Linked DNA regions of Homo sapiens. The protein of the gene in region 2 purifies or fractionates together with the protein of the main gene of each other region. This does not show direct contact. Each region holds a gene or a part of one and is shown on either strand. Other genes may lie near its edges.

Region 1 (10,731 bases), on a different chromosome or scaffold from region 2:
GCTTATAATTCAGGGCATCTCAACTATGTCATAGTTTATAACTAAATTTATTCATAAATATCTCATTAAAGTAGATAATGTGATTGTCCACTATTACGGAGTTGATCAATCACACCAAGGGCAGAAAAACCAATGGATGTTAAGACCTGACTTGGACCAACGATCCTTCTCTACAGACTCAAACTCTCAGCCAGTAGATGTCTGTTAGGATAATGCTTTATATTGATGTTCAATTCCAGCTGACATGGGAGACCAAAAGTCTACTTTTATTTATTTTAGTTTCCACGGAGAAGTAGCAAGCTGACATTCTGTAATTTTCGACATACATACTAACAATATATTTTGCACCGAACATGTTATTCAGGTCTAAGTCATCTCATAGACCATCTTACATGACTATTTTTGCAGCAGAAATCACAATTTCAATATTTGGGTGGCACCCATTTTGCTTTGATTCACACTATTTCCTCAGAGCTAGTCAGCAAATAGTCAAATGACCTTCCAGTGACTGCACAAAATATGGAATGCTTCAAAGATCTGTGCTGCCTCCTTATGCAGAAGCCACGCTAACTTTCCCCGTATTGTTCCAATTTTAGGATATGTGCCGCCGAAGCAAGCACAAAGCCCTACTTTTACACATGATTAGTGATGCGTCATGGACAAGGCTTGGCTCTGTGAAGTCCAACTAACCTACTTGAGATTCTGAGAATTCTCTTCAATGGCTTCCTGTGAGCTAGAGTTTGAAAATATTTTAAAATCTTGAGCTAGAGATGGAAGTAGCTTCCACGATTTTCATTATCATGTAAATCAGATCACTCAAGGGGCCAACCACAGCTGGGAGCCACTGCTCAGGGGAAGGTTCATATGGGACTTTCTACTGCCCAAGGTTCTATACAGGATATAAAGGTGCCTCACAGTACAGATCTGGTAGCAAAGAAGAAGAAACAAACACTGATCTCTTTCTGCCACATTATTTGAACCCCTCTCACCCTTTAGAACAAGCCCACCTAATATCTGCTAGAGAAAAGACCAACAACAGCCTCAAAGGATCTCTTACCATGAAGGTCTCAGCTAATTCCTGGCTAAGATGTGGGTTCCACATTAGGTTCTGAATATGTGGGGAAGGGTCAATTTGGTCACTTTGTGTGCGGATAAAGTCAAGATGCCCAGCGGCCAGAGCAGGGGGCTGGTGCTCTGGGAACAATGGCTGAGCATATAAGCATAGGTATGGGAATTAAAAAACATCAAAGTCACTGTATGAATCGCCATGAAGACTTGAGGGATCTGAATCTACTGATTCATCTTAAGGCAGCAGGACCAGTTTGAGTGGCCACAAAGCAGCAACAGAATCAACGGAAACAACAGAATGATTGCAATGTCTTTTTTCCTCCTCCTTCTGACTTGATAAAAGGGACTGTCTTCCTTGGATTTAGTAAACCCCTTCGGTTCTTGAAAAATTCAAGGAGTATGTAGGACATAGTGCCCAGAAGACAGTACAAGACTTTCCGCTAAACTGGACATTTCAAGACCCAAATAACTAATCAGAAAAATTAAAGATGTGACACTATTTTTTATCCCATGCATAGGTGTTACACTTGGATCAAATGAACAATGCTGGGATCTCTAAGGATAAAGATCTTAAAAGTCCTGAGATAAAGAATCCCGCACCCATTGGTACTTCTAACTTGTCTTGCTTTTTGTCTGATTTCTGGCTGATGCAGGGGACTAACTCACTGCCACGCGAAAACTACCTGAACCAAACTATGACATCTCACCTGATATGTCAGATGCAACTGTTATAATTATTTTAAACCTCAATTCAGCATTAACTAGCCTTTTAATGTGAACACTTACACATGATGATGACTAGAAACAGCATACTCTCTGGCCGTCTGTCCAGATAGATCTTGAGAAGATACATCAATATTTTGCTCAAGTAGAAGGCTGACTATACTTGCTGATCCACAACATACAGCAAGTATGAGAGCAGTTCTAAAATGACAGAGATAGGAACTGTAATAAAGTTATTTTTAAAGCTAATTTGATATACTTTACCAATGTAACATCTTGCCTGTCTGTGCAGAATCAAACATTTACATGCACTAAAAGACATAAGCATCTTGAGTGCTCAAGTGTTCATCTTTGTAAAATACCACAAAAGTTAAAAGGAAGGGACCAAAAAAAACCCTCTTATCTCAGTGGGGTATTGCATAGCAGAAGCTACTAATTTAACATCCTTTGATGGGCAAGAAACAATGTTAGGGCCACTTATCTGAAGTGGACAAAGATTTAAGTGAAGAGTTTGTCACAGCTTCCCTAGACAGATATGCTGTAATAGAAAATCAGCTAGGGGGTAAGAGAAATAAGAGCTCTCTGCATGCTCAAAGCAGTAATATTAACAATGGTAAGAATAGTAGTCATAGGAGTTTCAGTTAATGGTGCCAATAACCATGTGCTAGGCACTGAATTAAATCCTACATTTATCTTTCTTACTTATGCACAGCCAACTTTTAAGGATATATTCTCCTACTTTTCATACATGACAACACATTTGGTGGTAAATAACATCCCCAAGGTCACACACCTAGCAAGTAAGAAAGTTAGGAATTAACCCAGTCTTGTGTGAATCCAAAGCCTAGCTCTTTTCTCTTTATCACCCACCTACATCTTGCCTTCATTAAAGGAAAAGTGTATCCACTTAAAACTATCTTCACTCCCTCTCTCCATACCAATTAAAACTAAAAACACCAAAATACACTGGAAATAAAAAAGGAAAAAAGCTGTTGAACCCACAGTATGTGGGAACAGCAATTAATTGTCATGTAGCGATAAGCTAACATTAATATTCTTCAAAGAAAGCAACTTAAAGCAGAGTCATTGAAAAGACAAAAGGATTTTCAACCCCTATTTATGTTTAATACAGTATATTTAGTGGAAAAGCATGTAAGACACAGAGGTTAAAAACTATTAGAAAGGGTTAAGAAGTTCAATACTGAGTCATAAAGTAAACTAAAAGTTAAAGTTCAAACTTCATAAAATTAATATGAAATGCCTTTAGCTAACATAAGATCATGTAACCAAAAACGTCACATAACAAATAACATCAGTCAATATAATGAGAAGACGAATCCTACTAAAACTGTTCTTTATGTTGCCCAGTCCAAGTAATTGTTTTTCTACCTAACTGATTTGTGTTGATACTGATCACTACATCCCAGTAAGTATACATTAATCTTATTAATTTAATATTTATGACTTGAGTGACTGCTATCCATCTAGAACACAGATTAAAAGAAAGAACTATACCTTCCATATCTATCCAGCGCATTTAAATTCGCTTTTTTCTTGATTAAAAATTTCACCACTTGCTGTTTTTGCTCATGTACACCAAGTAGCAGTGGTGTGAGGCCATGCTGTAAAACAATATAAAGCAAAAACCTATGTAATTCAAAAAAGTACATATTCCTCAACCGAAGTGGAAACTTTATATAAGATCTTATGGACTTACACGCATAGAAGTAAATAAAATGTAGTCGCTTCCTTCTCACTCTTCTGTGCTTTCCCACACGCTGCTCCTTCCCTTGGAAACACCCCTTCTCTGCCTCACCACAGTACCTCTAATCATCTCAAAAACTCACTTTAAACATTTACTGCTTCCAAGGCTCTTTGCTTCTAAACCAGCATTTGGCATGGTGTTATTGGATGATAATATTTTTCCCATCTAAACAAAAAGCTTCTTGAGGGCAGGGGCTGTATCTTTTGTCTCTATATCCTCAACCCTAAGACAAATTGTGTATAAAGCAAGAATCTGCATGTAAAATATTTCTTTAGTTTCATGTTTTACCAAAAGTTCAACCTCCAACATGCAACAAAAATTGCTGTTAAAACTCATACTGCCCATTTGAAAAAATTTTCCAACATTTATTTATTTAAAATCTATTTGTATTTAATTTTCCCAGATTGTTAACTAAACCATCAGTTCATAGGACTACTGAAACTAAATTAACAGAATTCCTATCTGTATTCTTAATAACTCCATGGTTTTTAGTGTTTAAAACTGCCATGCTGATTATGCCAAAGCTCTACATACTTAAGAGACACACTGGATAGTCCATAATACAGCGTCAATTGACAAAAAATGGTTTAGAATTTGCTACAATTCTAATTGAGAAAACTCTGCTCTTAACGACTTACTGACCTAAGTACTTGAATGACTGAACAAAGAGACACAAAATCCTGAGAGGGCCATACTCACAGCAAATTTCTAAAGACCTTCTGAATGGCAGTGAATAACTGATGGTAGAAAGGAAAAGGTATTATTCTGTAAGCTGATACATACTACCAATAATATTCATTTTAAGGTCTCAACCACAGAGATAAAAGTCAGACTAGGTCAGGAATGGTGGCTCACACCTGTAATCCTAGCATTTGGGGAGGCTGAGGTGGGTGAATCGCTTGAGCCCAGGAGTTCAAGACCAGCCTGAGAAACATGGCAAAAACCTCATCTCTACTGAAAAATAAAAAAAAATAAAAAAAATAAAATAAAATAAAAAAAACTGAGGTTGGAGGACCATCTGAGCTTGGAGAGGTCGAGGCTGCAGTGAGCTGTGATCACACCACTGCATTCCAGCCTGGGAAACAGAGTGAGACCCCATCTCAAAAAAAAAAAAAAAAAAAAAAAAAGTCAGATTAATGTTATTGGAAAGATTTAAAGAAATCAGCACATATCCAACCCCAACTCTTCTAGAGATACCTTAAGTTTCTGAGACATAAGAATTTACATATTACATTTATGTATTGAGTGGTTCTTAAGCAGGAGTGTATCCAGATTTTGAGAAAATTGTTGTTGTTGTCGTCGTCGTTGTTGTTGTTGTTGTTGTTAGAGACAGGGTCTCATTATGTTGACCAGGCTAGACTCGAACTCCTGAGCTCAAGCAATCCTCCCACCTCAGCCTCCCTAGCAGCTGGGACTACAGCCATGCACCACCATGCCTGGCTTCAAGGAAACATTTTCAAATATACATATCCAGGCTTTATTAGACTTACTGTATCAAAATATTCAGAAAAAGCCTAGACTTGTTGATTATTTAAACATTTTCCTCAGGTTACTGGGATGCACAATTCTAGCTGAAAGCTAGTGCAACAGACAATTACTTCAGTCTCATTTCTCACCCATATGACCAGTTCCCTTTCTCATTTGAAGATTTGGCCAAAAAGAGTAAGGAGTAGGAGAGAGACCCATTTGCTGAAAACACCACATGATTTTCCCCGGTAAGAGAAGAACAGGGTCTAGTCAACTCAAAATCCAACTTGATCTTGTTACTTATTTATCTTCCACCTTCCCATCCAGACACTCTAGATTTGAAAGCAGAGCTGAGACTCTAATTGGCCATTTCTACCAGAATAGGATACTAAGTCAGTTAATTACTTGATATTCCCTCTGCTCAAGGGTTTCCCCTTACATTACCACCTATTCACTGCCAATCTGGTTCCTCAGAGGCCTCCTAAAATTGATCTCTATTCAGTTTACAACCCACTAACTCCCTCTCCCAAACTGAAAACTGTCATTCTCTAAAATTGAAGAGAACCTTGTCTCAACATACAAAGGGAACAAATCAATCAACAACGACAACACACACACACACACAACCTCTTCATGGTCTTTTCCCTCTATTACCTAATTTCCAAATTGGCCTTGATATTTCTGATTGCTCTCTTTTCCGCTTTCCACTTCTGCCTCATGAGCAATCAGAAATATCTTAAGCCTTGCCACTGACAGGCGCATCACCTTCGTATCTATTACTGTTTCTTAGGAACTTGCCAAAGGGGCAGGATCTCTATTCATTGAAACATATTTAAGTTTTCTTGGAGTTTTCATGTAAAACCTATTTCAGGGCAAATTTTGCCATTTTACATTCATTAGGGGAAAAAAATCCTAGGAGGGAAAAATTGAAAAATAGTAAGTATTACCTTCTACAAATTCAGTGCTTTCAAAAAAATTATTTACCACAAGCGCATTAAAAAAAAAACTGTACCCTCTAATGCTTCTTTGAAAGTAACAATATTTAAAATGAAGTCTTAGATAATTAGGTCATTTCAAAATATTTTCATTCAGGTTATGCTTGAGCTTCCAAATATGGAAGACTGGCCCTTACACAGGTCAATGTTAAAATGAATGCATTTCAGTATTTGAAGATAAAATTGGTAGATCTATACCTTGTTTTTTGATTCGATATCAGCACCGTATAAGAGCAGTGCTTTGGCCATTAATTTATCTTCATTGTAGATAGCGTAGTGTAGAGTGGTATTTCCATACTCATCTGGAATGTTTGGATCAGTGCCATGTTCCAGCAACATTAACGCACATTCATCTTCCTGGCATTGTACGGCCTGTCAGTATTAGACCAAAAACAAATTACAAATCCTAGGAATTCAAAATAACATTCCACAGCTTTCACCACCTAAGTTATATTTAAAGGAGAAAACTCATTTTTATGCTATGTATTGAAATCAAACCCACCTCATGCTGATATAGTTGGCTACTGCATACCTTTGTCAGAGCTGTCCTCTTTTTGTTGTCAAGGACATTAAGTTGACATCGTCTGTCCAGCAGGAGTTTTACTACTCCTGAATTCCCATTGGCAGAGGCCAGATGTAGAGCAGTCCTATGAGAGTGACAAGACTTTTTAGGAAATTGTAGTGCACTAGCTACAGCCATAGCAATGATTCATGTAATTGCAAACACTGAATAGCCTGCTATTACTCTGCCTTCAAAACAAACATTTAACTTTCCCATGAAAAAAGCACACTATTTATTATCTCTCTTTACTCGCTGTATTAATGAAAGAGCATCCTATATGAATACAAAGAGCATAGCCCTTGGATGACATTCAACTTGAGCTGGAATCCTACTTGAAGCTCTGTCACTTCCTGGCTGTTGCTTAGCCTTTTGGGGTCTCAGTTTCCTCATCAATAAAATAGGAATGAAAATAGTAGCTTTCTTACGGGAAACCACTGTAATGCTTAAATGAGACTCTGCACAAAAGATATAGAATAGTTCCTAACACAAATAACAGCTCAATAATTGTTAGATATTTTAATTTTTACTAATACCACTAAAGACAACATTTGAATTGAGATGATACAATTATACCTGCACTTTCAGGTGTGTTTTAAATATTACAGCTAACATTGTATTTTAGTGATTCTGAGATGATCATTGTCTCCATGTTGTCTCCACTGAAATACCACTTACAATTCATGATTTACTATAATTTGCGGCATTTAAATAATTCTCTTATTGAGGCATAAAATAATGGGGCATCATACAATCCCTGGTGTCTTACATTAAGTAGAATATGTTACAACAGGTCTGGGGCGGTTCCAGTCAGATGACCAGCATTTAGATAAATTTTAGTTCCTAAAAGAACTATGGAATAAGAGAGCAGAGGTGAAAACAAAAACAAATTTCTAAAATAAACCAATTCTTACTTTGGTTTTCAATAAACTTTAAGTCAAAGAAAACTTGGAATTCAAATGAATAGCATGGGCTCATTTTTGTCAACACTTAGATTTATACAATGTATGTACATCAGATATTTCCAATCATTCATATTAGGATTTAAGACTGTTATAAATTTTCTTGTTTTAAAATGGATTTATGAAACTATTTGTGGAGCTTTTTTCAACTTTTACATTCAGGGATACATGTGCTGGATGTGCAGGTTTGTTACATAGGTAAATGTGCACCAAGGGTGTTGGTTGTACAGATTATTTCATTACCCAGGTGTTAAGCCCAGTACCTGTTCATTCTATTTCCTGCTTCTTTCCCTCTTCCCACCCTCCACCCTCTGATAGGCCCCAGTGTGTGTTCCTTCCCTCTAGGTATCTGTGTGTTCTCATCATTTAGCTCCCACCTGTAATTGAGAACGTGCTGTATTTGGTTTTCTCTTCCTATGTTAGTTTGCTAAGGATAATGGCTTTCAACACCATCCATGTCCCTGCAAAGGACATGCTCTCGTTCCTTCTTTTATGGCTGCATATTATTCCATGCTGTTTATGTACCACATTTTAGTTCTTAAAACAACTAAAACAGTCTTTTCCCCAAGACATAAATTTTCAAAAGGGCAGTTAAAGGTTATCTATTACTATTTTCTACCTCCAGAAATGCTTTTGTTTGAAAGGAGGGAGGAAAAGCTTCAATTGAGATTAAGTCCTAATGCCCCAATTTTAAATCTCTCAGCTTGCTCAAGCCCAGCAGGAAAACATGTAGTTTTCAAAGACGGAAGGATCCTGAGAGATAGTAGAATATGCCTGCCACATAATAGGTGTCTGGCTTATGTCTGATGACTAAATGGATAGGAAAAATGGATGAACACAGCTTGGGAGTTCAATATTTTTAAAGAAAACTCCTATAGAGTAGCGCAATACATTTGCAATAGCAATAATCATTTATATTTGCTATTTTAATTTTCATAAATATATAACTCAACTAAAATGATTAATTCATACTTTTTACATGTTAATCTATATATAATGAAAAGATAATTATGGAATAAAATGTATATATAATAAAATCTACAGGAACAGGTAAACACGACCCCTCTTCTTCTGAAGAGGGTAAAAGTTCACAGAAAATAGCCAACCACAGAAATAAAAATAAATAATAGAATGTGAGGAATTATTTGCATCTATGCAAGAAGCATATTCCTTCTCTTCCCAAGGATTATTGCATTAGTAATGAACCTTAACTACAACTTCAGATGTTCATTGCAGAAATCACAGATAAGAGAAAGGGAAAAACTTCACTTACAAATCCCCAGAAACAAGTTTGATTATATTTTCTACAGATTTGCAGCTAACACGAGCAGATTCTGTTCGTGTATATGTGTAACAAACTGATTTTTTTCTCACTTGATATAGCAAAGTACATCTTTGCACGTCGACATATCTCTGTATCTACTGACACCCTCAATAGTTACATATTATTCCATCCTATGGATGCACTGAAATTTGTTCATAAAATCTTTATATGGGTTCTTCTAAATACACTGCTATTTTAAGCAATACTAAGAAAAACACATCTATTTCGTAAAGATATTTCAGTATAATGGAATTGATAAGTAAAAAGCATACACATTTTTAAAATGTAGTTCTTACCACTAAAGTGTCTGTTTGAAAAGCTGCAGCAACTTAAACTTTAAACAACTACATAAGTACCACTGTTCTTCATCCTCACAAACTTTGTGGATGGAAAACAGTATTTCATTCCTTTTTTTTTTTTTTTCTTTTTTTTTTGAGATGGAGTCTCACTCTATCACCCAGGCTGGAATGTAGTGGCGCGATCTCGGCTCACTGCAACCTCCACCTCCCTGGTTCAAGCAATTCTCTTGCTTCAGCCTCCTGAGTAGCTGGGATTACAGGTGCGTGCCACCATGCCCAGCTAATTTTTTGTATTTTTAGTAGAGATGGGATTTCACCACACTGGCCAGGCTGGTCTCAAACTCCTGACTTCATGATCCACCGCCTCAGCCTCCTAAAGTGCTGGGATAACAGGCGTAAGCCACTGCACCCGGCCTTTCATTCCTCTTCTAACTTAAATAGAAAGCAGTATTTCATTCCTCTTCTAACTTAAATTCCTTCTTCTACCAGGAACACTGTATTTTCCTATGTGCATAGGTCACTGGTAGATATGCAAAAAAAGTACTTTGCCCAATTTTAAAATGAGCTTATTTTATTATGTCTGCATATATACACCAGGCACGGTGGCTCACGCCTGTAACCCCAGCACTTGGGGAGGCCAAGGTGGGTGGATCACGAGGACAGGAGTTCAAGACCTGCCTGGCCAAGATGGTGAAACCCCATCTCTAGTAAAAATACAAAACAATTAGCCAGGCATGGTGGCAGGCGCCTGTAATCCCAGCTACTCAGTAGGCTGAAGCAGAGAATTGCTTGAACCTAGGAGGCAGAGGTTGCAGTGAGCCGAGATCACACCACTGCACTCCAGCTTGGGCTACAGAGTGAGACTCCACCAAAAAAAAAAGGATATATATATATATATATATATATATATATATATATATATATATACACACACACACACACACACATATATATGTATATATATACACACACATATATATGTATATATACATATGTATATATATGTATATATGTGTATATATATGTATATATATATATATCTGCGTATATAAATAGGCATTTATATTTTTTCTGGTATGTTTCTCCTTTTGTATGTTTAAAATTTTTAATCTATACTCTTATTTTTGTGACATAAAAATCTAGCTAGTTTTCTCCAAAAATGAATTATGAACAATCCATCTTTTTTAAATAATACAAAACATCACCATTATCAAGTGCTAAATTCTTACATATATTTGGGTATTTCTAAATTTCCTATTCTGTTCTATTCATTGATGTCTTTTCAGCTGTTAGTAAACAATTTGTGGAAATAAATAACACATGCACATTTTGATATCTGGAAAAGCAAGCCTTTTTCCATTCTGTTACAAAAAATTAATTTATCACAATAATAAAAGACAGCATGTGTAATTTAAAAACGCTAAAACTTTGCTATTTTTATTTGGCTTATGTAAAAGTGATAAATAGAAAAAGCTCACATCTTTTTTTTTTTTTTTTTTTTTGAGACGGAATCTCGCTCTGTCTCCCAGGCTGGAGTGCGGTGGCACTATCTTGGCTCACTGCAAGCTC
Region 2 (10,731 bases):
ATAGTCACATGTCTGTCTACAGACTTTTTTTGATGATATGAATAGGATCTTGTTTCTTCTTGAGTTCTGTTTTTAATTCTCAATTTTCTTTCACTTTTTGGAAATAGTAATGAGAATAATCTTTTTTTTCTCCCTAGATGTGTTTGAAGCTCTTTCTGAGCTCATAATTTTAACAGCTAGCCATTGTTTGCATGGAAAGGAAATCAGAAGTCAACTCAATGAAAAGGTAGCACAGCTGTATGCAGATTTGGATGGAGGTTTCAGCCATGCAGCCTGGCTCTTACCAGGTTGGCTGCCTTTGCCTAGTTTCAGGTATGGATAAAGAATATATTACACTAGGTTATTTAACTTTGTATAATTATTGTAGTGTTGGTATGCTTTGCCTTAACAAAGATAAAAATTAAACAAGTAAAACATACAAAATGGGTAAGATTATGAATCCCCTTTCTTCTATAAGAATTCAAGACAAATTTTCTTTATATAATGAGCTCATTTAAAGTAAGTTTCAGTTTATTAAAAAGGTGATTTGTTGTCTGTCTAGTCTAATATTTTATTTATGTTTTTGTTTTTGAGATGGAGTCTTGCTCTGTTGCCCCAGCTGTAGTGCAGTGGTGTGATCTCGGCTCACTGCAGTCTCTGCCTCCTGTGTTCAAGCAATTCTCCTGCCTCATCCTCCTGAGAGCTGGGACTACAGGCACGTGCCACCATGCCCAACTAATTTTTCTATTTTTAGTAGAGACAGGGTTTCATCATGTTGGCCAGGCTGGTTTCAAACTCCTGACCTCAGGTGATCCACCTGCCTCAGCCTCCCAAAGTGTTAGGATTACAGGCGTGAGCCACTGAGCCCAGCCTAGTTTAAAAGCCTGCTTACCTCACGTATTCCTTATCCTCAGGAAAGTCTCTGAACTATACCTAAAAGTGATACAGCTCTTCTCTAGCACTTGTTTGAAATCTTTGGTGGCTTTTTATTGTATTGTGAAGTTTCTTTGTTTTAAATATTTGTGCCTTTATTTAATTTTCTGTTTCTTAAGGACAGGGACTGCCTCTGATATAAAGAAATATTGCTCTTAGGACTTGATCTATAGCTTAGTGCTTAGTGTTTTGCATATTAGTAGGCTTTCTGTACTTTTGTTGATTTATTGGTGTTTAGGTGACAGATGGGGAGGAGATAGATTGCTAGTCCCTTTTCTTCTATTTCTGCCCCCTCTATCTAGTTACAGATTGGAAGAGGGGTGGGAGTAAAAGGAAGAGCCAGGAGAGATTCCCTAAAGTTCTCTGGAACTCATCATACCTTATATTTGCAAGGAGCTTTGCAGTTTCAAAATGTTTTCATATATCTTATATTAGAACACCCAGCACAGCCCTGGACTCATAGTGGGTTCTCCATAAATGTGCATTTCTTTTTTTTTTTTTTTTTTTTGGTGATGGAGTCTTGCTCTCTCGCCCAGGCTGGAGTGCAGTGGCATGAGCTCGGCTCACTGCAAGCTCTGCTTCCCAGGTTCACGCCATTCTCCTGCCTCAGCCTCCCGAGTAGCTGGGACTACAGGCACCCGCCACCAAGCCTGGCTAATTGTTTTGTACTTTTAGTAGAGATGGGGTTTCACCGTGTTAGCCAGGATGGTCTTGATCTCCCGACCTTGTGATCCGCCCGCCTCGGCCTCCCATAGTGCTGGGATTACAGGCGTGAGCCACTGCACCTGGCCCATAAATGTACATTTCTACCTGCCTGTTTCTACCTGCTCTGTCTCTTGGATGAAGTCAGAGCTTGCTATGTTAGGCCCTTCACATTCTGGCCCAGTCTTTCTTTCTTCTACTCATACCAACTAATTTAACCAGATTATTCAATTCACTTTCTTAAACAGGCCTATGTTTTCCTGGTTCGACTGTATTCATACAGTTAAGCCCCAACATCTTCTCTTCTGTACACATGGTTTCAGTTGATCCTCAATAACAGATTAACAGTCTTGTAAATGAAACAGAGTAGGAGTTTTTTTTAGAAGGCTTGATTTAAGAGGGGGCTTGGGAGTCAGACTGCCTAGTTTTAAATTCCAGCTCCAATGTTTGCTTTCTGTGTGATCTTATGCAGCTAGCTATAACTTGAGGTTAATAGTATGTACCTCACAGGAAGATAAAAGTGAGTAATTCATGTAAAACACTTAACATGGTACCTGCTACATAGTGAACATACTATTTAAAGGTAAAGTTTAGGAGTTGAAGCTTGTTTTCTGAATCTGCTAGTATTTTCACCCCCTACAAAAAACTATTGTATTAGAAAGTGAAAAGTAGAACCAGATTCCATGGAAGAACCAGAGTGACTCTTCTGCTTTAAGACTTGATTTGGTATTAAAATTGGAATTTTATGTTAATTTAAAAGAGTATCCTACTTTCTGTTGAACTGGAAAATACTTCTAAAGGAATTTCTTGCTTGTTTTAGGCCTTTAGTTTGAACACAGGCAATGTGTTAAGAATCTGGGATATATATGTTAAATAAAGCACAGTTCTTGCCCTTAGGGACTATGGACATTTTTAACAATGTAAGATTTTCATGACTTCCAGTATGTTCCTGGTTCTGATTTTTTTGTCAATTATTTTAGAGTCATTAAAGTTGGTTAAATAAGATGCTTTATGCTCGGTCCTGGTTCTCAAAATGAATTTGATCCTAGAAGGTTATTTCTTTATTTAAGAAAATCATCTTTATCTTTTAATTACAGACGCAGGGACAGAGCTCATCGGGAAATCAAGGATATTTTCTATAAGGCAATCCAGAAACGCAGACAGTCTCAAGAAAAAATTGATGACATTCTCCAAACTTTACTAGATGCTACATACAAGTAAGAGCTATTCAGATAACATATTAAGCTGAAGCAGGAAATTACACATTAAAACACAGTTAAATAGTATTTCCAGTTAAAAAACAGTGATGCTGGCAAAATAAGTTGGTAGCTGTGATCTTTGGACTCTTTAAATTGTTGAGACATAAACTATTGGCATCCTGTGTCTTACTGTAATCCCAGTGACTGGGTATGGTAAAAGTTTGCTAATGAACTGTAATGGAGTCTTTTGTAATCAAAATCGTTTTGTGCTGGTCTGTCTCTTCCCTAAGAGAAAAAAAACTCTTGACTTGTGATAGTCAAATATAAGAGACCACTATACCTGAAAAATGTATTCATTATGACACTTTATTTAAAGGTTGAGGCATGAAATGTATCTGCCAAAATGTTAAATTTGTGTCTTTGGTTCATTCCTTAGGGATGGGCGTCCTTTGACTGATGATGAAGTAGCAGGGATGCTTATTGGATTACTCTTGGCAGGGCAGCATACATCCTCAACTACTAGTGCTTGGATGGGCTTCTTTTTGGCCAGAGACAAAACACTTCAAAAAAAATGTTATTTAGAACAGAAAACAGTCTGTGGAGAGAATCTGCCTCCTTTAACTTATGACCAGGTTTGTTGGATTTTTCAGTTTCATTGCTGCCTTATGACTTTGAGGATCTGTGGCTAATTTTTAAAAGGGACAATTTGAGATTTTCTATATACTATAGCTTAAATTGATCAGCTTCTCTATTTTTAGCAAATTCCCTATAACCTTACCTAAAATATCTTAATGTTATTGCTTCTTGCCATTAAGCTTTATCAGATATGTTTTGGGTTGATGGCTTAGAGATCCTTGGGGATGTTTCTTTGGTACTTACTTCCTCTGCTTCAAAGTCTGGCTTCTGTACATAGAGGATATTATGTGCATGTTGTGTGTCTTATGAAGTGTAGAAGCCTCTGAATTACTTAGAATTCTGTATGTCCAGAGTGGCCTGGGCATGAGCAGAGACTTCTAAAAGTAGTAGTAGTAGTAGTAATGAGGACAAGACATTTACAAATACTACATGCAACTTGCTGGGTGGAAAGGAAGAGAGGACAACTCACTGCACAACCTGACATTCCATCTTGGAAGCAAACCTTGGTGATGTCATCTTCCTGTTATCTTTTGTGCTTTTGGTCCTATATTAATATGGCACATTACACTGATTTTCAGATGTTAATTGTATTCCTGGGATAAATCCTACTTTGTCATGGTGCATAGTTCTTTCTATATGTTACTACATATAAACTTGCTGGTGTTTTGTTGAGGATTTTTGCATCTATATTCATAAAGGATATTGATCTCTAGTTTCACTGTGATGTCTTTGACTGGTTTTGATATCAGGATCATACTCATCTCATAGAATGTATTTGGAAGTATTCTTTTTTTCTTCTAATTTTTGGAAGAGTTTGTGGATGATTGGTGTTAATCCTTTTTTACATATTTGCAAAAATTCAGCAGTGAAATCATCTAGATCTGTGCTTTTCTTTCTGAGAAGACTTTACTTACTAATTCAATTTATTTGTTACAGGTTTATTCAGATATTCCATTTCTTCTTATGTCAGTTTCAGTAGTTTATATCTCTCTAGGAATTTGTCCATTTCATCTAGGTTACCTAATTTGTTGGCATACAATTGTTCATAGTATTCTCATAATCCTTTTTATTTCTGTAAGCTCAGTAGTGATGTCTCAACACTCATTCTTGTTTTTAGTAACTTAAAATAACAGCTTAACTGATATATTTACATAGCATAAATCCATCCATTTAAAATGTACACTTTGTGGTTTTTAGCATATTAAGAGTTGGGAAACCATCATCATAATTTAATTTTAGAACATTTACATCACTCCCAAAAGAGAGCTGGTACCCATTAGCAGTCATGCTTCATTCTCCCTGACTGCTGCCCCTGGCAACCATTAATCTCCTTTTGCCTCTGTGAGTTTGCCTATTCTGGATATTTCATGTAAATGGGATCATACAATTTGTAGTCTTTTGTGACTACCTTGTTTCACTTAGCATGTTATCAGGGTTCTTCCATGTTGTAGCATGTATCAGTACTTCAGTCTTTGTTATTACCAATAATATTCCATTATATGGATAGACCACATTTTGTTTATTTGTTCATCAGTTGATGGACATTTGAGTTGTTTCCACCTTTTAAACTATTATGAATAATGCCGCTCTAAACGTTTGTGTACTGATTTTATGTGGACATGTGTTTTCAATTTTGGGGGGTCATACCTAGGAGTAGAATTGCTGGGTTATAAGGTAACTTTGAAGAACTGCCAGACTGTTTTAAAAAGTGGCTGCACCACTTTCAAATCTCACTAAACAGTATATGTTGGTCCTGACTTCACCCCCTCACCAAACTTGTTACTTGATTTTTTTATTATAATAGGTGTGAAGTGATACTTTTTTTTTTTTTTTTGAGACAGAGTCTTGGTGTGATGCCCAGGCTCTAGTGCAATGGCGCGACCTTGGCTTACTGCAACCTCGGCTTCCCAGGTTCAAGCTATTCTCCTTCCTCAGCCTCCCAAGTAGCTGGGTACACACCACCACGCCTGGCTAATTTTTGTATTTTTGGTAGAGACAAGGTTGTACCATATTGGCCAGGCTGGTCTTGAACTCCTGACCTCAAGTCATCTGCCCGCCTTGGCCTCCCAAAGTGCTGGGATTACAGGTGTGAGCCACCATGCCCAGTTGGTATTTTGTTTTGATTTTGCATTTCCCTGGTGACTAGTGATGTTGAGTGTCTTATGATGTGTTCTTTGGCTTTGGTATACTTCTTTGGAGAAATGTCTGCTCACATCCTGTTCCCATATTTAAAATGAGTTGTCTTTTTATTATTGAGTTGTAAGAGTTCATCTATTTTTTTTTAATGTGCTTTTGGTGTCAGAGAAACTAATGCCTAATCAAAGTGTATGAAGATTTATTTCTGTGTATTCTTCTTAGTGTTTTGTAGTTTCATATCTTACATTTAGGTCTTTGATCCATTATGAATTAATTTATGTATATGATGTGAGGTCATCATTCTTTTGCATGTGTTTATCCAGTTGTCCCACACTGTTTGTTGAAAAGACTATTTTTTCCACGTTGAATTGTCTTTGTAAAAAAATCTATTATAGCCAGGCGCAGTGGCACGTGCCTGTATTCTCAGCTACTGAGAAGCTGAGATGGGAAGGTCGCTTGAGCTCAGGACTTGGGGTCCAGCCTGGGCAACATAGCGAAACCCTGTCTCTGAAAAAATAAATACATTTTAAAAAGCCTCTTGACCATAAATTTAAGGCTTTATTTCTGGACTCAGTTCTATTCCATTGATATGTTTAGTCTGATGCCATTACGTAGTTTTGTAATAAGTTTTGAATTCGGGAGTGTGAGTCCTCTGACTTTGTCCTTTTCAAGGCTGTTTATCTACTCCTAGTCCCTTTAGTTTCCATATGAATTTTGGGGTCAGTGTGTCAGTTTCTGCAAAGAAGCTAGCTGAGATTTTTGACAATGATTGCATTGTATCGCCATATTAATTTGGGAGCACAATTTTAGTCTTTAAATCTGTGAACATGAGATGTCTTTCTCTTATTTTAGTTCTTTAATTTCTTTCAACAATGTTTTATAGTTTTTGGTGCACAATGTTTAAACTTCTCTTGTTAAATGTATTCTTAAGTATTTTATTATTGTTATTTTTTTGATGTTATTCTTTCTTCTGCCAGTCCAAATCTGCTGTTGATCCCCTCGGGTGAATTTTTCATTTCAGTTCTCATACTTCTCAGTTCTTGAATTTCTATTTGGTTCTCTAAAAAAATAATATATTGATATTCTCCATTTTACTAGAGATATCTAGGCATATTTTGCTATAGTTCTTTGAACCTGTTTATAATAGCTGATTTAAATTCATTATCTAGTAAGTCCAATGTCTGGGCTTCTTCATGGATAGTTTCTATTAAACTGCTTGCTTTTTCTATGTACTGGCCATACTTTCCTGTTTTGGTGTGTTTTTTGTAATTTTTTTGTTGAAAACTGTACATTTAAAATAATGTGGCAACTGTGGAAATCAGATGCCCTCCTCCCTGGGTTTATTGTTGCTGGCTCTTTGTTGTTGTTGTTGTTGCTGCTGCTGTTTGTTTACTGCGTTTCCTGGATTAATTATGTCATTCCTTGTTCAGTGAGGTCACTGAAATCTCTGCTTGCTTACTTTAGTGGGCATCTAATATTTGGACAGAGATTTACTGAAGTGCTTTGAACAGCCAGTCTCCTAGCTTTTGCTGAAAGGCTCTGTATGTGTGTGTTAGGGGATGTTATTAACACTCCAACAGGCAGTTACAAGTCTGCCTTCACTACCTGTGTGTACAGGTCAGCCAGAGGTAAAAGATTACAGCCTCTTAGATCTTACCTGGGCATATGCATGGTCTTATACATATGTGTGGCCTTCAAGATTCTCTTATGTTGGAACTTTTCAAAGTCTCCTGTGGACATCTTACTCCCCAGTTTTCCCTTTTAAACTTCTTGTTCTGTCTCTTAGCACCAACTGATATCACCATCTCAGGCGCCTTCAGTGTTAAACAATTTTTGCTAAATATTTTTGGAAAATTTGCTCTGGCTCCTCTAATAGTTGTTAGGCTTCTGGCTTTCACAGCTGCTATAGTTGTCATGCTGTTGGTTTCCGGGGCTACCATGGATTTGGGGAGAGGAGGATGAAAGAAATACAACTTACACTACCACAAAGCTTACTCTTCTTACCAAGATTCAGATTTCTTTTTCTTGAATTAACTCTCCTTAGATTGTTGCAAGCCTTTGGTTAATCTTCCAGAATTTTGAAAAAGTTGACATTAAGATTGTTGCTACTGTTTTCATTTTTTGGAGGAGTGAATTTTTGTAGGTTCTTACTTCATTCTTCAGGGCAATCGCTTCTGTTACCTTGCCCTCCTTTTTCACCATGGACAGTGGTAGAGCATGATAACCCCAGCCACCCTGAACCAGTTACCTCTGTACTTTTAGCTGGAATGCAAGCTGTCTTGTACTAACTAAGAAGTTAAACTAATTTTTTGTACTGTTGAAGTATGTTATTTATAACAATCAGGAAATGCTTTCTCATTTTAGCTCAAGGATCTAAATTTACTTGATCGCTGTATAAAAGAAACATTAAGACTTAGACCTCCTATAATGATCATGATGAGAATGGCCAGAACTCCTCAGGTGAGTATCTTGGCTACATCTTCCCCTCTATACCCCCAGTTTTTATCAAAAAGAAGAAATAGGTGGGTGTGGTGGTTCACACCTGTAATCTCAACACTTTGGGAGGCTGAGGTGGGAGGATCACTTGAGGCCAGAATTTGAGACCAGCCTGGGCAACATAGTGAGACTGACCTCATCTCTACAAAATTTTTTCTAAAAATTAGCTGGCCATAATGGCACATGCCTGTGGTCCCAGCTGCTTGGGAGGCTGATGTGGGTAGATTGCTTGAGCCTGGGAGGTTGAAACTGCAGTAATCCATGATCACGCCACTGCATTGCTGCCTGGGCAACAGAGCAAGACCCTGTCTCAAAAAAAATAAAAATAAAAAAGAAAGAAAAAGAAAAGAGGAAGTAGAGTAGCATAAAAGAGATTTTTTTAAATTAAAAAAGTAGAATAATCACTTCTACCTAATCTTCAGTTTTATATACTCTAAAAACATATTTTTACCTAATTGTAGATAGTATACGTGCTAATCTGTTTTTTTTTTTTTTGAGACGGCATTTCACTCTTGTTGCCCAGGCTGGAGTGCAGTGGTGCGATCTCAGCTCACTGCAACCTCCGCCTCCCGGGTTCAAGCAATTCTTCTGCCTCAGCCTCCCAAGTAGCTGGGATTACAGGGGCATGCCACCATGCCTGGCTAATTTTTTGTATTTTAGTAGAGATGGGGTTTATCCATGTTGGTCAGGCTGATCTCGAACTCCCGACCTCAGGTGATCCACCCGCCTTGGCCTCCCAAAGTGCTGGGATTACAGGTGTAATCCCGCGCCCGGCCTACATGCTAATCTTTAATGCTAATCATGTTCTGCATTTTTCTTTAACAATTGGGGTTTTAAAAATCAAAGTACATATTTTTCTTGGTTTTAAAAATAACATTTTGTTGTAAAAAATTGTTAATATGAAGTGTACAAATTGATAGTGAAAGCCTCTCTGAAATTCCAACCCTACCTCCAAGGCATTATGGGTTTGATTTGTGTACTGTGTACTTCCAACCCAACGCTGGCTCACTGGAAATCATCTTGAGTTAAAATAATTTTTAGTTTGCCTATTATCTAGCCAGTTTTTAAATATATGTACAGATGGTTCTTGATTTATGTGATTCAACTTATAATTTTTTGACTTTATGATGGATTTATCAGGATGTAAACCTATCATAAGTCAAGGAGCATCTGAGTATCCCATGTATATTCATGCTTTATTACACAATGATCTGATTATTTGTCAGCACATTTTTAAATTCTCTAATGAAATGTGTGGCTTTTGTTTATAGACTGTGGCAGGGTATACCATTCCTCCAGGACATCAGGTGTGTGTTTCTCCCACTGTCAATCAAAGACTTAAAGACTCATGGGTAGAACGCCTGGACTTTAATCCTGATCGCTACTTACAGGATAACCCAGCATCAGGGGAAAAGTTTGCCTATGTGCCATTTGGAGCTGGTAAGATGATTATATTTTAGATTGGAAATGTTTGTTCTGATAACATATTTGTCTCTGTCAAAATATTCCGAATTGTGTTTACAAATTATCTCTCCCTTTCCTCATAGGGACATTTTTGCAAACTTTTTTAGGAGAAGAATCTTTATAAGTTGGAGAAAAATATTTCCTTTGTACCAAATGGAATTGTTCCATAAATCCTTATATAATGCTTCACTACTTCCTAACCTGTCTGGTTTTATTAGGTCTAATTTTTATAGAACATCCTTGTTTTCCCTTACAATGGTATTTAAAGCTCTTTGTGGATTCTCTTTTAAAGAACCATTGGAGTCAGCACACCATTCAGGGAATAACAGATTACTAGCATTTCACAAAAAAGCAAAGGCAGTCTTTTAAAATTAAAGCTCTTCTCGATCGTTAGTCAACATTTTTGCTCTCTGAATATCCGTATGAGAAAATGGTCTTTAAATTTGGGCAGGTTGTGTGTAGGCTTGCAAATTTCATTTCCAGTAAGATCCTAAAATAATTTAGCTATACCCTTGTTTCTCCAGTAATTTCTCTGTCCATTGGTTCTCTGTACTGATTAAACTATATTCTATGCTTTAGTCTTTCCAAAGGGATCATTTAAATGACAGATGACTTGTCATTGGTCACACTTTTTCCACATATAAAGGAAAATATAAAGTCCTTTGGGAACTTCAGATCTTAACTTTATGTAATAAATTTAATACTGTGGTGTATAACACAATATATAAAAGAATCATAGTTTTTTTTTTGAGAGAGTCTTGCTCTGTCACCCAGTCTGGAGTGCAGTGGCACAATCTCTCAGCTCACTGCAACCTCCACCTCTGGGTTCAAGTAATTCTCGTGCCTTAGCCTCCTGAGTAGCTGGGATTACAGGTGTGTACCACCACGCTCAGCTAATTTTTGAGCTTTTAGTAGAGACTGGGTTTTGCCATGTTGGCCAGGCTGGTCTCGAATTCCAGGCTTGAAGCAATCTGCCCACCTTGGCCTCCCACAGTGCTGGGATTACAGGCGTGAGCCATGCCACCTGGCCAAAGAATCAGATTGTTAACAGATGGGAAGAGCATTAGTTCTGTAGCCCAAATTCTGCCCCAAAGAGGAATCGTTTCTAAACTAGTAATTATCTGGTTTCCACTTGAACTTTACTAGAAATGGGTTGTGGGTTGTTCAGTTACCTTTTATGATGGCT
Region 3 (10,731 bases), on a different chromosome or scaffold from region 2:
TAATCATTAATAGACAGAATTCTAAATTTGGAGTGAAATCTTTTCTTGAGAAGCAAAAAACAGAACTCATCCTACCCACCCATACACTAATTCCTCTGATTCATGTTAAATCTGCAGTGTGAGACAAGGAGCTTACCAAATATAAACAAAATATCCTTAATAACTGCTCTTTTTCCTTATTGACCACCAAGAACAGAAGCATCCACCCAAAATAAAGAACTTGCTTATAAAATGTTGTAAGCACTGCACTCACAGTTTTGAAACATATAGCTATATTACATAGAACTCCCATGCAGAGTATTTCCTAGTCAGCCTTCAACAGTCAGAAGGTCTATAATCAGAGGCATCCAAAATAGAAGTGACTTGCATTTCACCACCCAACTGGGATTTCTGCAAAGCTCACAAAGCAAACTGGCACGGATGTGATTGTAGTTGCTAACAATTCTCCTTACTGTGCCCAGCTGTATTTCTCTCAGTACCAGGAGCCAGCTGACATGTCTAAGCTGCTCACACATCTCTGCTGAGCAAGCCACTCAAATACACCATACCCAGTGAAGCCCCACTATACATCCCCAGTACGGGACAATGTGTCTGAAGCCCCACTACACATCCCCAATAAGGGATAATGTGTCTGCAGTGAAGTACTTTTTAATGCAAGTAGTATAACCATGGGAGACTAGACTCAGCCCAGAGTTGTTACCATGGCCCAAAACATTTTACAATTTCTTTTATGAAACTGCCTCTCAGATCAGTTTTTAAACCATACTAAAAAACAAAACAAAACAAAACAATAACAAAAAAGTTTCTTTACAAACTAATGGGGCAACCCATGGTGGCTCACACCTATAATCCCAGCACTTTGGAAGGCCGAGGCGGGCAGATGGCTTGAGCCCAGGAGTTCGAGACCAGCCCGGGCAACAAGGCGTAACCCTGTCTCTACAAAAAATACAAAAATTAGCTGGGCATGGTGGCACACGACTATAGTCCCAGCTACTCAGGAGGCTGAGGTGGGAGGATCACTTAAGCCCAGGAGGCGGAGGTTTGCAGTGAGCTAACGCCACTGCACTCCAGCCTGGGCAACAGAACAAAACCCATCTCAAAAAAACAGTAAAACCTAATGTATAGAATGTCCATCTTCTGACAAAGGTGAAAAAAACAGATTTACAGGTTTTCCACTTATCTATTTGAAAAGCAACCTTCCTGGCAAGGCAACAAAGTGGCAGTCTGGAGTTGGCCAACCCCTGAAATGACCTCTTCTGCCAGAGTCATCAAGAGACTTTACAGGCAAAATCTTGCTGATGTGTGGGATCCACCAATGTGACTTGCCAGGCTGACATGCTCAATTTTAGCTTTAGCACACCCTTCTTTCCAAGCTGGCAAATAGCAAAGGAAGCCCCTAGAAAAAGTAAAGGGAGACAGAGAGCCTAGCAACAGCTACCAGCAACACACAGAGCCAACAGCAAGAAAGAAAAGGTGGGTGGGGTATCTCCTGAGCTCCCTGCAATTGTGGGTCTAGCCAGTTAGATTCCTTTCCTAAAAGAAATGAGAACAACAGCCCCTAATAACCTGCTGAGGAACGCTTGATCTTATTATTTTAGGTAACCAACTACCCTTTATTAAAAAGCAGTATTTTAATATAATAAAGCATATTTATGCATGCCTCAAAATCCTATTCTTTGAATAAATAAATAAGCAAGCAAGCAAGCCCTGGCTCCAGCTTACACCTAAGGGTGCATGCTGACATTCCTAGGAATGTGGTTCCGGGGACACAGTTAGCAGACAGCCTGGGTGGGTTCCATTACCCCAGGAGTCAGGGAAAGCTTCTTCAAATATTCATCCCACTGCTCCTGTGTGGCATCACACTGACTTCAGAAAGATGCAACTCAGAAGAGTAATGAATCTGAGAAATAGTATTTCTATTCCAAATTCTACAGCCAGCAAGCATCCCACTCAAAGGTCAGACAGCTCTATATAACCTTACCCTACCCAGCTCTAAAATTACAGTTATGCTCTGGGACTGCCTTGAAGCCTGCTTTGATGTCTTTGTTAGGATAAGCTCTTTAGGCTTCCAGCTTCTCCAACTATGGACAGTCCAAACATAATTAGGTGGAGATACTGGAGCACACTTCACATATAATACAAGAAAATCAATATGAGTACCACATTCATAATGACATAAGTTCATCTAGTACTTTGTGGCTTTTTAAGCATTTTAGCCTCATTTGGATCCTCATAGTACTACCTCAATGTGTAAGGCGAGTCAGTTTTTTTTTTTTTTTTTGAGATGGAGTCTCACTGTCACCCAGGCTAGAGTGCAGTGGCGCTACCTCGGTTCACTGCAAGCTCCGCCTCCTGGGTTCACGCCATTCTCCTGCCTCAGCCTCCTGAGTAGCTGGGACCACAGGCACCCGCCACCACACCCAGCTAATTTTTTAAAATGCAAATCAAAACCATAATGAGATACCATCTCACACCAGTTAGAATGGCAATCATTAAAAAGTCAGGAAACAACAGGTGCTGGAGAGGATGTGGAGAAATAGGAACATTTTTACACTGTTGGTAGGACGTAAACTAGTTCAACCATTGTGGAAGTCAGTGTGGTGATTCCTCAGGGATCTAGAACTAGAAATACCATTTCGCCCAGCCATCCCATTACTGGGTATATACCCAAAGGATTATAAATCATGCTGCTATAAAGACACATGCACATGCATGTTTATTGCGGCACTATTCACAATAGCAAAGACTTGGAACCAACCCAAATGTCCAACAATGATAGACTGCATTAAGAAGATGTGGCACGTATACACCAGGGAATACTATGCAGCCATAAAAAATGATGAGTTCATGTCCTTTGTAGGGACATGGATGAAGCTGGAAACCATCATTCTCAGCAAACTATCGCACGGACAAAAAACCAAACACGGCATGTTCTCACTCATAGGTGGGAATTGAACAATGAGAACACATGGACACAGGAAGGGGAACATCACACACCGGGGCCTGTTGTCGGGTGGGGGGAGTGGGGAGGGATAGCATTAGGAGATATACCTAATGTTAAATGACGAGTTAATGGGTGCAGCACACCAACATGGCACATGTATACATATGTAATAAACCTGCACATTGTGCACATGTACCCTAAAACTTAAAGTATAATTTAAAAAGTAAAAAAGAAATAAAGTATACCAACTGAAAAAAAAATTTTTTTTGTATTTCTAGTAAAGACCAGTTTTCACCATGTTAGCCAGGATGGTCTTGATCTCCTGACCTCATGATCCGCCTGCCTCAGCCTCCCAAAGTGCTGGGATTACAGGCATGAGCCACGGCGCCCAGCCCAAGGCAAGGCAGTATTTTTAAGCACTTTTTTTAAGCAGAAGAGGAAGGTGAGGCTCAGCAGGACGGAGGCCCCTCAGTAAAAGTAGAACCTCATCTGGAATGCGGGTCTTCCCATTACAAGGCTTCCTCTCTTTGCCCTCCACCATACTTCACAGAGCTGGGAGCACACCCTATAAATCCCCTGAGAAGAGCCTTCTCTGACTTTACCTTCCTTGAGCCTCTCCTTTCTTCAGGAAAGACAGGCTAGAATAATGCTGAGAATCAGAGAAGAAATGGTCTCCTGACCAAGGCTCCAAGCAACAAACTACTCAACATCTGAAGAGGATGAGAAATGCTGCAGGGAAAGTGAACTCTCACCCTTCTTCCAGCTATAAACTGGAAATAATACTGAAAGGATGAGGGACTTACATCAACTGTCATTGCTGGGGACCTACCCTCACAGCCCAATGTTGAATCATGAAAGGATTCACACTTTGAAGTGTGACAAGTATGATACTGTCAATAGCCCTCTTGTGAAAAATAGCACTGTTTCCTCAAAGTCAATCCAATGTGACACACTTGGAGCTAAATCTCTGACCCTATGTGATTAAAACAGAATTTCAAAGCCACACACATATCCTGCTTCTTGGTATTTTTTGGTTCTGCCCCTTGCTGGATAGAAATAAATTTAATCCTTGCATTAGTTTCATCTAGCCAGAAATGTAAAAGCAAGACCATCAGGCCGGAGACTGTGGCTCACACCTATAATCCCAGCATTTTGGGAGGCAGAGGCAGGCAGATCACCTGAGGTCAGGAGTTTGAGATCGGCCTGGCCAACATGGCAAAACCCCGTCTCTACTAAAAGTACAAAAATTAGCCGGACGTGGTGGCACGTGCCTGTAGTCCCAGTTACTTAGGAGGCTGAGGCAGGGGAATTGCTTCAACCCAGGAGGCGGAGGTTGCAGTGAGCCGAGATGGCATCACTGCACTCCAGCCTGGGCAATAAGAGCGAAACTCCGTTTCAAAAAAAAAAAAAAAAAAAAAAAAGACCATCAGCTTTGTAGAGGAGGGTGAGAAGGTGAGAAAATCTACCACTCCATGGAATTATTTAATTTTCATTACTCTCAAAAAGCAGGCAGGAGACTGGGCGCAGTGGCTCATGCCTGTAATCCCAGCATTTTGGGAGGCCAAGGTGGGTGGATCATATGGACCAGCCTGGCCAACATGGTGAAACCCCATCTCTACTAAAAATACAAAAATTAGCTGGGCAGTAGTGGCGTGCACCTGTAATCTCAGCTACTCGGGAGGCTGAGGCAGGAGAATTACTTGAGCCTGGGAGGCAGAGGTTGCAGTGAGCCAAGATCGCGCCACTGCACTCCAGCCAGGGCGAGAGAGTAAAACCCTGTCTTAAAAAAAAAAAAAAAAAAAAGGCAGGCAGGAAAGTAAAAGTCCTTACACAAAATATTGCTAGACAAAAGCATATAGGCAATAACTATGAATCTCTTGAAACAAAGTGGGCTGGGCCAGGCCATCAGGAGGTTCAGATTCTAGACACGGATCATTCTCTAATTAGCTGTCACAGGGCAGTTGAGGCATGGAGGCAAGCTGACAGCAGACCGAACCCCAGCTGCCACTAACAAACTGAGGAACCTTCCGCAAATGCCTTAACCTTTAAGGCTCAATTTCTTCACCTAGAAAATGGGGAGAATGATAAGAAGACTAAGAAAAACAATACAGGTCAAGTAATTAGCACGGTTGTTGGCCGAAAATTAACAAAGTAAATTCTACTACCATCATCCATGATCTGCATGACCTGGGCAAGAAACTACACCTCTCTGAGATTCAGTCTTCCCACCTGTAAAATGGGTGTGTGGAAGCAAACGACTCCCTGATTCTAAGTGAAAGAGAAACATGAAAAGTAAGCAGAGACAGGTCATGGACCCATGGTCAGTGCTATGGAGAATGGCTCTCTTGACAAATCTTTAAACTGCACTTCTCCACACTGCTAACTAATATGAAGTCACATGCTTGGTCGGGGTGTCTCCACATACCTTGCAGACAGCAGGGCTGATAAGTCTTAGCCTGGAAAGAAAGTCCACGGTATGTTCTGCCCACCAGGGCTGGTAATGTTAATGTGGGACCAAGATTCAAGAAAGAGTGCTGCAGAGGTGATGTTAAATAGATTGTAGAGACTCAAGGAAGCCAAGAGCAATATGCAAGCTCATCCTACAGGCACTTAGATTTCAAATTGCCCTGTGTCCCCACTCTTCTAACGGCAAGCAGTTTTGCCAGTTATCCCTCCGCTGCTTGGGATGAGTCCCTGAGGCTTCTAGCTTCTCTGGCTGTAGACAGCCAAAACACCATGTACCTATATCCCATTAGACACTTCATGTTTCAGACAAGAAAATCAACATAAGTGACTATGTTCATAATTGCAGATGTTCATCTAGTATTTTTTGGTTAATTGAGCATTTGAGTCTCAATTTGATCCTTAAGGATGTAAGGCCACAGCTAAAGTCATTCGTTGAAAGAAACAAGGAAAAAAGACTAAACATACCACATTATTAAACAGATTCCCATTAGCCAGGTTTCCTTTCAGCCTGGGTATGCTTTTTTTCTTTTTAAGCTTTAAAACCTTTAAGTTTCATTTTCAGTACTTCACCCTATCTGCTACCTCTCAGGTTAAACTACAAAGCCAAAAAGTTTCACATCCACGCTACTTTCATTATTACAAGTCCTCTTCATTCTCCTTGCCTCCTGTTTCCCCTCACCCAATAAACATACGCGATGATGTTTTCATTCACATCCTTCAATGGTTGGTTTCACTCAACAAATTCATTCAACAAATATTTATAGTATCTTCAAGGAATCAGGTGCTACTCTAGGCACTTGGTTACATCAGTGAACCAAACAATAAATGTTCTATTGGAACTTACATGCTAGTAGCTAGTAGCTAGTATTTATGTTTATACTTATATAGTATATCATAAAGTGTTAAGGAATAAAGAAACAGGAGTGCAGGGAATATGCATTGGGATTGCCAGTGGGCGGCAGAAAGGATGTTTAAAGGTGATTGGGAAGGCCTCCCTGAAAAGGTCAGGCTTGAACCAAGGCTGCAGGTGATAAAGGGACTCAGCCAAGAGAGCACATGGAGGACACTTCAGGCAGAGGGAGAGAACGGGGTGGAAGTTTGTGTCTGGTATGTTCCAGGAAGGGCAAGGAAGGAGGCCAATGTGGCTGGAATGAGCAAGCGACTGAGTGAGCTGATGGCAGGCAGATCCCAAGGGGCCCCAGCGACCACTGTAAGGCTTTTACTTGTGCAATAACGAGTCACTGCCGTTTTTGAGTGAAGGAATAAGTTCAAGTTTTTTAAAGGATCTTAGCCATGGCTGTTGTGTCGAGAACAGACTGGAGCAGGCAAGGGTGGAAGCAGGGAGACCAGGTGGGCTGGGGGAGATGGCAGCTGCTTAAATCTCCAGAAGAGCAGCAGCAGAGGTCTTGAGAGTGGTCAAAGTCTGATATATTCTGAGGGCAGAGAGCCACATTTTCCTACCAGATATGATACAGGACGAGGGAGAAAGTGAGTTGTCAAGGATGACAGGTAAACTATAAAAATGAAAAGAGTGGGCCAGGAGCAGTGGCTCACCCCTGTAATCCCAGCACTTTGGGAGACTGAGGCGGGCAGATCACTTGAGGTCAGGAGTTCGAGACCAGTATAACAAATATGGAGAAACCCCATCTCTACTAAAAATACAAAATTAGCCAGGCGTGGTGGCGCATGCCTGTAATCCCAGCTACTTGGGACGCTGAGGCAGGAGAACTGCTTGAACCCGGGAGGTGGAGGTTGCAGTGAACCAAGATTATGCCACTGCACTCCAGCCTGGGTGACAGAGCAAAACTCCATCTCAAAAAAAAAAAAAAAAAAGAATGAAGTTGCCATCAACCATTTTAAGGTAAAACCCTACAAGGACACTATGGTACAGCTGTTACAAGTATCCTGATTTATTTGGTCTCCTCACATTTTAAATTCTCTTTAGTCCCTCCCTCCCTTTCTCCTCCCACAGAAATAATCTAATCCTGGAAGTCTGGACTGAATAACTGCTGCAGACAGAAGAAGTTTATCCTTGAGAAAGTATGGATATGACTGCAATGACAAGACACCCTATCCCAGAAGGCAACCCCAGACTAGCTAACGTTTGATGGCTAAGTCAAGCAACAATGGAAAGTTTCCATTTGCCATGTATTGGCTGTGTGACTTTGGACAAGTCATTTCTCCTCTCAGTGACTCATTTCTTTGTCTTAAAGTAAGGGTAATATTACCCATAGGGTTACTGTGAGTTCTAAGTAAATGAATGGAATCCAAGTACTTAGAGCGGCAGCTGGTGACAGCTGCTACAGAGTAAGTAATACATAGGCTGCAATTATTACTATCATTTTTTTATTTTCCTAAAGAATTGTTCTGAAGATTACTATTGTTGTTATGTGTTGCTGTTTTTTCTCAATCTCTGAATGATTTTATAAGAAATAATACCTGGAAAGCATGAGTCCAATATCAATTTCAAAAACATGAATAACCTAACACTAAGATAAACTGAGCAAAAAGACACATTAAGTTGCCATTAAGCACCATAGACACCTAAGTTCCCAGACACTAAAATTACTGAAATTCTACAGGACAAGTATTACCCCTTCATGTGCCTGGTGACAAAGGGAAGAAAGCATGGATACATATGTCATATCTCTGTGATTTAAAGACACTAACCTATCATAGAAGACCCATGAACTTCAAACCTTTCTAAACCAGCTGGGTGGGATGTTTTTCAGGACATAAAAAATATGGTATTTGAGTACTTCAGCTTTTGATATATACTAGAGTCAATGATTCTTAAAATGTAGTTTTAAAATGTTTACTAATAACCTAACAATCAATATAACTCAGTTCAAATACATACAGATATAGATGAGCAAATACAGACATATAGATGTATATAGTGTGTATATATATACACTCTATTTAATTAAAACCTGTTCTCTTCTCTCAGCCTCTAATAATGAATTTCTACCAAAAATGTCCCTGAACGGCAGGTAACACTTCCAAGATTTGCCCAGCCAGCAATTCTCAGGCCTACCTGCATCTCAGAATCACCTTGGAGAGATTTAAACATATTAATGGCAATGTCCAGTACTAGATTTCTGGTTTAACTGAAACCAATGTTGAGAACTGCTGGCTGGGTCAATGCTAGAAGTATTATTTATTGAATTTGAGAGACAGAAGGTGAATTAATATTTCGGGGTTTAAACTAGCATAATCATATGAACTGGGATCTGGGATGAGAGGGCACTCCACAGCCTAGATTGGAAACCTGCCCTATACTCTCTCAAACTATCCTGAATCTGCAAAAGAGTCTTCCAAACATTCTCTCAAAAATTCCTGATGACTGAAACTTAAGATTTCTTTGAAATGAAAGAACACACAATATCATTTCACTGTACTCTGGCAAAATTGTACTGAGCCTTAGTGCCAAATACCTGGTTACACTTATTTTTTCCACCTTATTTCCTTACAATAGTCTATAATAACTGTATGCAGCCTGGCTCTAAGAAATGTAAATCTTCTTTTTTTTCTTTTTTGATCCATCATTCAAAACAAAGCCTCCGCTAGATACTGCACAACATAAAAAGGAAATTTACTGCACATCATAAAGAAGACATTATTTCCAAATGTTTTCGCCTGTCAACATAGTATAGGACTGGGTAATGGCTTTCTGTAATAAACTCATTCATTTATTCCTCCCTTTAAAGTACAATACTTACTGTTTATTATATGCTAGACTTTTCTTTCAGGTGCTAGAGGCTGTGAAAGTGATCAAGACCGATCTGGCCTTCATCCTTCTAGATGCCTTTAAATGCATAAATTTAAGAAGAAAGTATGGCTGTAGTTCAAAGACATCTAAGCGTATGTTTAAAATAATGGAAATCTAAAATAACAACACTAGACACGTCATATGGAACCATAATTTACTAAGCGCGTACTAGAAACCAGACGTTGTGTTACTCCCTTTATACATGGCACTCATTTAATAAAGATGCTCTCCTAAAAAGATTAAACTACCATTTAGAAGAAATTACACGAAGACAAACGAGAAAAATCTTTCCTTTAGCAAAGTTTAAATGTGGCCTTTCCACAGTGGAGAGAATCTTCCATCCTAAAGTGGACAGGAACGAATTATGAAGTTGTGTTCATTCATTCACACAAAAATTTCTTCATATTAGTTCAACCAGATTAACTATGAGAAGATGTTTGGGTTAAAAAAATCACCTTGTCATAAAAAGATACTTCCAATTTCAAATCTTTTCAGTTGAAAATTCTATAAACTATATTTTAAGCATGATGCATAAATATCCCTCTGTCGTTATCACTGAGCAACAGTGCTAATAAATATGTTGCCAAACCAATAAAATAAATAAAACATTACTGCGTGCAGTAATTAGTCTTAGCTTTTTTTCTTTTTGCAAACTCCAGACCAACCAAAAGTCACCTGAATAAATCAGAAATTCATAGGACTGCAATTCGGGCCCATGCAAAAACTGAGACTTAACCCAAAGGTGTCTGACAATCTTTTAAAGAGCATTCTCGGGAGAAGCTATTTGACTAATCCTGGAACCGCCACTCAAAAAAATCATTTTTTAAAAAAAACGGTAGAATGGGAACGGGGGAAGTGGAGTCCATTTGTAAGGTTCCGGGGAACTGACTCAACATGGTTCTCCAACTCGAGGTTGGAGACACCGGGATTCCAAAATGGGAATCCACTCACTTCGCTTTTATAGGACAAACGCGTGCACAACTTGGCTTCGGGCTGCATTCAGGTAGTGCCGGGAACCCCGAGCTCCCGGGCCGCCCCCACCCAGCTCTGGCCGCTCCATTAAGGACGAGGGCCGGCTCCTGTCACCTCGCGACCCACGCGCACACACCCGCCCTAGGCCCGCCGTGCTCGATGCCGCGGGCCTGCAAAGTTTCCGCGGCCGCTCACTTGGGGGTAACCAGCGAGGGGTACGCCCAGAGGCTGCGGGGCCCCGGGCGCCTAGGCTGCGCGGGCGAAGCCCCGGTTATGCACGGGTCGCCGAGACCGGCTGGGCAAGCAAGAGCAGCCGGGCCGCCCCGACGTTGGCTGTGCGACTGTTGCCGCGGGGGCGGGTAGGGGGCTCGGCGGGCCGCACTCACCGTCTATGTTCTCCCGGTCGCTGATGTGCTGCAGGTTGCAGCCCGTGTCCTCGCGGCTCAGGTCCGTGTCTGGCCGGTAGGACTCCAGCCGGGAGTGGGCATTCCTCCGGAGCTTGGGACTGGACGACACGCAGCACGAGGTAGTGTTCCCCATCTTCGGCGGCCCCCCGACTCCTGCTGCTATCCTGTTC

Evidence for each region.
Region 1: the proteins of CYP51A1 (region 2) and POTEI purify together in Homo sapiens (affinity purification with mass spectrometry; 3 studies listed by BioGRID and IntAct, with this or other methods). This does not show direct contact.
Region 3: the proteins of CYP51A1 (region 2) and CCNY purify together in Homo sapiens (affinity purification with mass spectrometry; 2 studies listed by BioGRID and IntAct, with this or other methods). This does not show direct contact.

Annotation. Positions count from the first base shown.
Region 1 is NC_000002.12:130,497,230-130,507,960, forward strand, and holds part of POTEI (POTE ankyrin domain family member I), read right to left. Parts: intron 6,666-10,731; coding exon 6,551-6,665; coding exon of another isoform or gene 6,521-6,550; intron 6,391-6,520; coding exon 6,217-6,390; intron 3,414-6,216; coding exon 3,307-3,413; intron 1,993-3,306; coding exon 1,855-1,992; intron 1-1,854.
Region 2 is NC_000007.14:92,115,834-92,126,564, reverse strand, and holds part of CYP51A1 (lanosterol 14-alpha demethylase), read left to right. Parts: intron 1-137; coding exon 138-312; intron 313-2,711; coding exon 2,712-2,831; intron 2,832-3,249; coding exon 3,250-3,445; intron 3,446-7,949; coding exon 7,950-8,045; intron 8,046-9,352; coding exon 9,353-9,521; intron 9,522-10,731. UniProt on the Homo sapiens protein: Sterol 14alpha-demethylase that plays a critical role in the cholesterol biosynthesis pathway, being cholesterol the major sterol component in mammalian membranes as well as a precursor for bile acid and steroid hormone synthesis.
Region 3 is NC_000010.11:35,337,017-35,347,747, reverse strand, and holds part of CCNY (cyclin-Y), read right to left. Parts: 5' UTR 10,695-10,731; coding exon 10,541-10,694; intron 1-10,540. UniProt on the Homo sapiens protein: Positive regulatory subunit of the cyclin-dependent kinases CDK14/PFTK1 and CDK16.